2 linked regions of the Homo sapiens genome follow. The protein of the gene in region 2 interacts with the protein of the main gene of each other region in a pairwise test. Each region holds a gene or a part of one and is shown on either strand. Other genes may lie near its edges. The genes, in order: USP13 and FNBP1L.

What was found.
Region 1: the proteins of FNBP1L (region 2) and USP13 interact in a two-hybrid assay, tested with the Homo sapiens proteins (one large-scale study listed by BioGRID and IntAct).

Annotation. Positions count from the first base shown.
Region 1 is NC_000003.12:179,760,896-179,764,722, reverse strand, and holds part of USP13 (ubiquitin carboxyl-terminal hydrolase 13), read right to left. Parts: intron 3,612-3,827; coding exon 3,468-3,611; intron 722-3,467; coding exon 555-721; intron 1-554. UniProt on the Homo sapiens protein: Deubiquitinase that mediates deubiquitination of target proteins such as BECN1, MITF, SKP2 and USP10 and is involved in various processes such as autophagy, endoplasmic reticulum-associated degradation (ERAD), cell cycle progression or DNA damage response.
Region 2 is NC_000001.11:93,451,000-93,454,826, reverse strand, and holds part of FNBP1L (formin-binding protein 1-like), read right to left. Parts: intron 1-3,827. UniProt on the Homo sapiens protein: Required to coordinate membrane tubulation with reorganization of the actin cytoskeleton during endocytosis. May bind to lipids such as phosphatidylinositol 4,5-bisphosphate and phosphatidylserine and promote membrane invagination and the formation of tubules.

The sequences.
Region 1 (3,827 bases), on a different chromosome or scaffold from region 2:
AAGGGAATTGTCTACCCTGTAGTTTCAGAGTCCCTTGTTTCTTGGTATCAAGAAGTTCATGGCTACCAGAAGAACCTTCTCTTTCTGCAGAGAGAAACAGCAGCAGAGAATTCCAAGGAGCCATTCAGTTTTCTATGAGGACTTTTAAGAGACATTTACCCAAGGTCTTGGTATCAGAAAAGCATTCTATCTCCTAAAGGACTTCTTACTGAACATGGAATTTCATGCATCCCTCTTTCCTCTAGGGCCACAAGCAGCCTCCAAGTCAAATTTCTGACCCCCTGTTAACAAACATTCAAGATGATATCAAGTTTCTTTCAGTTTGCTCATATTACCCCAGATTTATTTATCTCATTCGCTGTGTGAAAATCATTCATTTTAGCTTTATATTTATAATATGCAAATAAATCTTTATGGGCTATGATGAGATTCACAGTTAGATGAATCAAACATGAATCAAAATGATCAAAGTACATTGGAAAGTCTCAACTGCTACAGAAATAAATTCACACACACACACACACACACACACACACACAGTCTCTCATGCTCACCGTTGCTCGTAGTGCCTGAATAGCCTGATTTCGCTGAAATCCCATGGAGGTGATGATAGCTACGATTTCCTCTGGAGGTTGGTTATCCAGTCCAGAAGCACCAAAAACAGAGGCTCCAGCAGAAGCTGCCCCTCCATAACCAGGCATGGTCAGCGGCTCAGCAAAATCTGAGAAAAATAACCACACCCAAGTCTTTTCCTTTTTTTTTTTTTTTTTTTGTCCTGAAACAACACTAACAAGGAAAAACATGATTCTACAAAGTTATAATAATCAAGACAGTCTGGGCCAGGCGCAGTGGCTCATGCCTGTAATCCCAGCACTTTGGGAGGCCAAGGCGAGTGGATCGCCTGAGGTCAGGAGTTCGTGGCCAGCCTGGCCAACATGGCAAAATCCTGTCTCTACTAAAAATACAAAAATTAGCAGGGCATGGTGGTGCACACCTGTAATCCAGCTACTTGGGAGGCTGAGGCACAAGAATCGCTTGAACCCAAGAGGCGGAGGTTGCAGTGAGCTGAGATTGCACCACTGCACTCCAGCCTGGGCAAGAGAGCAAGGCTCTGTCTCAAAAAAAAAGACAGTCTGGTACTGGTATATAGGCAGACATATGGATCGATTAAATAGAATTGAGATTCCAGAAATAAAACCATATACCTGTGGTTAACTGATTTTCAACAAGACCATTCAGTGGGGAAAGGACATTATTTTCAACAAATGATGCTGGGACAACTGGATATCCACATACAAAAGAATAAAGTCAGACCCTCACCTCACATCATACACAAAATTAACTCAAAATGGCTCATTGACCTAAATATAGGAGCTAAAACTATAATAATCTTAGAAGAAAACACAGGAGTAAGTCTTTGCCATTGGATTAGGCAATGGTTTCTTATTTACAACACAAAAAGCACAAGTGATAAAAGAAAAAAAAGATAAATTGGACATCATCAAAATTAAAAATGTTTGTGCTTCAAAGGATACCATCAAGAAAGTGAAAAAACACCAGAATGGGGGGGAAAACACAAATCATATATCTCATAGAAACTCGTATCTGGAATTTGTAAAGAACTCTTAGAACTCAATAATAAAAGGATAACTTCATTAGAAATGGGCAAAGAATTTGAATAGACATATCTCCAAATAAGATATACAGTCAATAAACATACGAAAAGTTGTTCAACATCATTAGTCATTAGGAAAATGCAAACCAAAACCACAAGATACCACTTCATACCCACTGGGATGGGTATGATAAAAAAGATAATAATAAGGGTTAGTGATGATATGGAGAAATTGGAACTCACATTCATTACTGGTGGAAATGTAAAATGGTTCAGCCACTGTGTAAAACAGTTTGGTCGTTCCTCAAAATTAAATATAGAGTTACCATATGACATGGCAATTCCACTCAAGAGAAGTAAAAATAAATGTCCATCCACACAAAAACTTGTAAAAAATGTTTATAGCAGCATTGTTCATAAAAGCCAAAAAATGTAAATAACCCAAATGTCCATGAACTGATAAAGATTAATAAAATATAGTATACCCATAAAATAGACTATTATTATTGTTATTATTATTATTATTTTAGATGGAGTCTCACTCTGTTGCCCAGGCTGGAGGGCAGTGGCGTGATCTCAGCTCACTGCAACCTCCGTCTCCTGGGCTCAAGCAATTCTCCTGCCTCAGTCTCCCAAGTAGCTGAGACTCCAGGTGCCCGCCACCATGCCCAGACAATTTTTGCATTTTTAATAGAGATGGGGTTTCACCATGTTGGCCAGGCTGGTCTTGAACTCTTGACCTCAAATGATCCTCCTGCCTTGGCCTTCCAAAGTGCTGGGATTACAGGCGTAAGCCACCAAACCCGACCCAACAGACTATTATTTTACCGTAAAAAGGAATGAAGTACTGACACATGCTACAACATAGATGAATCTTGAAAGCACTATGCTAAGTGATAGAAACCAAACACAAACGACCTTTTATTATATGACTCCATTTATATGAAATGTCCAAAACAGGCAAATCCCTTGATCCAGAAAACAGATTCGTGGTTGCCAGGGGCTGGGGTGAGCAGGAAAATGGGGAGTGACTGCTATTATGTATGAGATTTCTTTTGAAGGGTACAAAATGTTCTAAAATTTGATAGTGGTAATGGTTACACAACTGTGAATTTATGAAAAACCATTGAAATGTACACTTTAAACAGATGAATATATGCATTATAGCTTAATAAAGTAGATAAAAGAAAAAGCTAACTAAACATCCTCCATTTCTTCATGCCCATGTTTCCATTTCAAATTTTCATCATCGCTTAGTTAGAAGTATATCCCGTATCTTTCTATTGGTCTTTTTGCCACTGACTTATACACTTTAAAGGGATGAATTATATCTCAATAAAGCTGTTTGGGGTTTTTTTTGTTGTTTTTTTGTTTGTTTGTTTTTTTGAGACAGAGTCTCGCTCTGTCACTCAGGCCAGAGTGCAGTGGTGCAATCTTGGCTCACTGCAGCCTCCGCCTCCTGCGTTCAAGCGATTCTCCTGCCTCAGCCTCCTGAGTAGCTGGGACTACAGGTACGCACCACCATGCCCAGCTAATTTTTGTATCTTTAGTAGAGATGGGGTTTCACTATGTTGGCCAGGATGGTCTTCATCTCTTGACTTCGTGATCCGCCTGCCTTGGCCTCCCAAAGTGCTGGGATTACAGGCATGAGCCCCCACGCCTGGCCTAAAGCTGCTGTTTTTAAAAAAAAAAAGAAGAAGAAAAAGACTGGCTTTCTCCTCCACTGCAGGAGATTAGGAACTATAAAGTCATTTTCTAGGGATACATCCACAGGGACCTTGGAAGGACCAGGACTCAGCATCACTGAGGGTCACATCAGACTCCAAAGCCATTCCATTTTCTCGCCACCTACCTGGCTCTTCCATGTGAACAATGATCCAGTTGAAGGCCACCTCGGCGCCCATATTTCCAGTGAAGTACACAGCCTTGCGACATGCTTCCAGCGGGAAACCCATCTCGGCCAGCTGCATCACTGATGACTCATCGATGTCTGATGCTACAGAGCACAACAGGATATTCTAGTGTGAAAGAGGAAACTGTCGCTTCTTGTCTTAGCTACTCTCCACTCTCCTATCCACATGCTACCCAAAGAAAGTGCTATTCTGTTGGGTGTAGATAATGGTTTTACTTTGTTTAGTTTTGTTTTAAGCCACACAAATATTAAAGCTATTTGGGCTAAGTTTATATCTTTGACCCACATAGGAACCAGGTT
Region 2 (3,827 bases):
ATACCTAATACAATGTAAATGATATGTGTAAATAGTTGTTATGCTGTATTGTTTTTAGATCTGTATTATTTTTATTGTTGTATGATTGTTTTAATTAGTATTTCCAGTCCATGGTTGGTTGAATCCACAGACGTGGAAATCAAATGATATGGAGGGCCTACAGTATACAGTCACAGATAAAGGGAAAATAAAAAACAATATAAACGAGCTGTAGTAATAATATATATTTAAAAATAAAACTAATTTCAAATTAGTAACATATTATTAAAGGAAATAACATCCTTCAAATATTCTTGCAGCGGCGCTAAAATAAATACACTTTCATCTTCTAAAACCCAGAGGTATTCCCCTCCTGCCACCAAAGTATTCAGAAGCAAGAGGTAATCCCTTCTACCAATAAACTAAGATTTTCTTCTGTGAATTTTTAAATGGTCTGAAAAGTGGTTTGATTATATACAAATGTGTAACTACACACACACACACACACACAGACACACCCATACACACACACAAGAGGTTCATGAATCAAGCAATCAGCCAGACCAACCTCTTTGCCTGCCTGGTTCCAGTCTACCCTTCATCACTACTTTCAGACATTGTGCACTCAAATTCAAGTCAAACGCAACACTAGACTCAGGTCAGTCCAACAAACATTTATTAAAGACCCTACTAATGTCAGGCTAATCCAGGCAGGATACAGCAATGAATCAGACAATGAATAAGCAATGAGTAAGACACAATATCTGCCCTCTAGGAACCTGTCAGGAACCCCCACCTGCATAACCCTTCTTATTCCAAAACCTAGGTCAAATGACAGTCTTCCTAAAGATTTTCCTGTGATACCTAGAATGAAAAGTCACTTTTCATAGCCCTAAAGTCCATCTATTACTTTCTAGTTGTTTTAGGGTTGCTTTGAGGCTCATGCTGATATCTAATTGATTCTTTTAGTATGCCCCACAAAGCCTAGCTTAGTGCTGAAGCCATAATAGGCATGAAATAAACATCTGTTGAATGAACAAGCATCAGTCCTGTTTACGTGTTTCAGGTGTATTAGATAGACATGGCCTGAACTGAAATATGGAACGGCTTTCACATTCTATAGAACAAAACCTTTACATAACCTTTCCTACCAGTTTTTAATATTCTATAGATATATTCCCCAAGACAGATTTTTTTTTGCTATTGAAGTGAAAATGTTTAAAGATTGAAGATTATTAAATAAGACAGCACTTGTTGATATACACAGAAGGTATTTGACATTTATAAGCCATTACTATTTCTCTTACTATTTCCTCTCTACAAACTAGCTGACAGAGGAAAAAGTTGGTAGAATAGGTTTTTTTAAAGTTTCCAGCCAAAATCATATTTTATAGGTTTATAGGGTGGGGGAAGGAGAGAGAGCAAATATTTTAAGAAAAAGGCAAAGAAAGCAAGCAAATGGAAGTAAATGGAGTATGAGTGGCTATGCAAAGGAGATACTGGTTAGAGGCAGCTCTCTAGCTTCCAACTTATTATAGTCATTATGGAATGGTGACATAAACAGATATCTTGATACCTCTCACTCATCCTCCTTAACTAATAGCAATAACGTCTGTAATACAATGTTGAACACAACAATTTCTACCAACAAAAGGGAATGTAAGATATTTAAGTATTTATACCATGACAATTTCCCTAAGATTTGAATACACAAGAAATAACTATAATAACCGTAATATAAGGTGGTAGTCCCATAAGACAATATCCAGAATGGGTAGTCTGGAGGCATGGGGTTGATAGGAATTGGTCAACAGAGGGCATTCTGGGCAGTGGTATCAATGTAGGGAAGTATTTTGGAGTTTACAGTAAAGTTATATCATCTCAAAGCAACTCTACCTTTTGTCAGGGCAGGGCCAATATCATAAGCCTTCATAAATCTCACCAAACATAACAGTGCTTCCCAAATAATAGACACAAAATTATTGTATTTTTAAAACAAAACTGAATTCCTACAGCAGTTTCACGGCCTTTCATTTACTTTTGGAGAAGCAATTCAGTTTACATTAATAATGAATTTTCTTTGTCAACCTCCTCTAGACAAGCACCCTCCAAAAAATGTGAAGTAAAATTAAAGTCAATATTATAGACAGTCCCAGCTTCTTGAGAGCTTAAGGAAGGACGATTGTGGAGCACAGAGTTCAAGACTGGCCTGAGAATATAGCAAGACCCCATCTCTAAAAATATACATATATATTACAGATATGGTCTAACCAGTAGACTATGAGACCCAATTCCTTTGTTACAGATAAATCTATTAATGTGGCCTAAGATTTCACCAATTATTTAGGCAGTCACATTACCAAGCTATCAATCAAGTAAATTCACCAGAAATTACCTGTAGGTCTTTTCTTCCCCATCCTTTTACCATTTTACTTGACAAAAATGTTTAACCCAAGTAGTAAAACTTAACTTTATAATTTTGGTTTCAGCTTTAGACTTTCTTGAGCTGTTATCCAGATCACCTAACCTATCACCATCTACAAAGGCCTTCAGAACCCTAAAGATACACTTGCTAATTAGTAATCAATACTCTGGGTAATGCAATCAACTATTAATGCAATTGGGCAAAACATGCATGATCACCTACAAGCATTGTCTTGGTCAGTGAAAACAAAGATGAATCCAGCCTTTCTACACTCAAGGACAATCTAGTCACTTACAATGTAAATTTAAGTGCTATATAAAGTGTTATGAAGCCAAGATAATAAAGTATTAAAAGGTTAACACTGAGGATAATACATAAATTATCCACCTAATCTATCACTCAACCCACATTTTTCAGTTTCTTCCAAAAAGATATAAGCTTTGTCAAATGCATTTAGTTAATAATATGATGAAGACCGGGCACGGTGGCTCACGCCTGTAAACCCAGCACTTTGAGAGGCCGAGGCGGGCGGATCACAATGTCAGGAGTTCAAGACCAGCCTGGCCAACGTGGTGAAAACCTGTTTCTACTAAAAATACAAAAATTAGTCGGGCATGGTGGTGTGCACCTGAAATCCCAGCTACTCGGGGGGCTGAGGTGGGAGAATGGCTTGAACCAGGGAGGCTGAGGTTGCAGTGACCCGAGATCGCACCACTGCACTCCAGGCTAGGCAACAGAAGAGACTCCATCTCAAAAATAATAATAATATAAATAATATGATGAAAATAACAATGGCTTTTAAATTACACATTCTTAAACTAAGGGCCAAAGATTATATCGACCAAGAAATTAAGGCATAAAAAAGATTTATATGCACTTATAAATTAAATCAGATATTTGAATCCATCTTCTAACTACCAGACTTGTCCAGCATTTTCCTTGGGTAGCAAATTTTTCAGTAAATCATATGAATGTGAGGTGCTCAGCCATATATTTTTTTCATATTTATACACACATTCACAACCCATACACAGATTTTTTCTGTCGAACTTTAACTAGGTCCTCAAAAACTAAAAACCTATTTCTTAATAAGTAAAACTTATTTACTAAACATAGGTCTTTTCCAATCTCTAATGTCCCTATCTGTTAAAAAAAAGCTAGTAATTTCAAAATCTGTGCTTTGTGAAATTATTAATTCATATTTGGCTATCTGATCCATCCATTCTTGCTATGTAATAAAGAAATGAACACAATAAGCAATGCCTAAGATGTTACCACGCATCCTGAAGAAGTGAAGACAGTATCATCTCTTTCCTTGGTATTACCCAGAATACAATGCAAAACTGTGACTGTAGTATATATTCACTAACTTATTTACTCATTTGGAACACTAGAAATCCCTGTAAGCACAGCTCAAATTTAT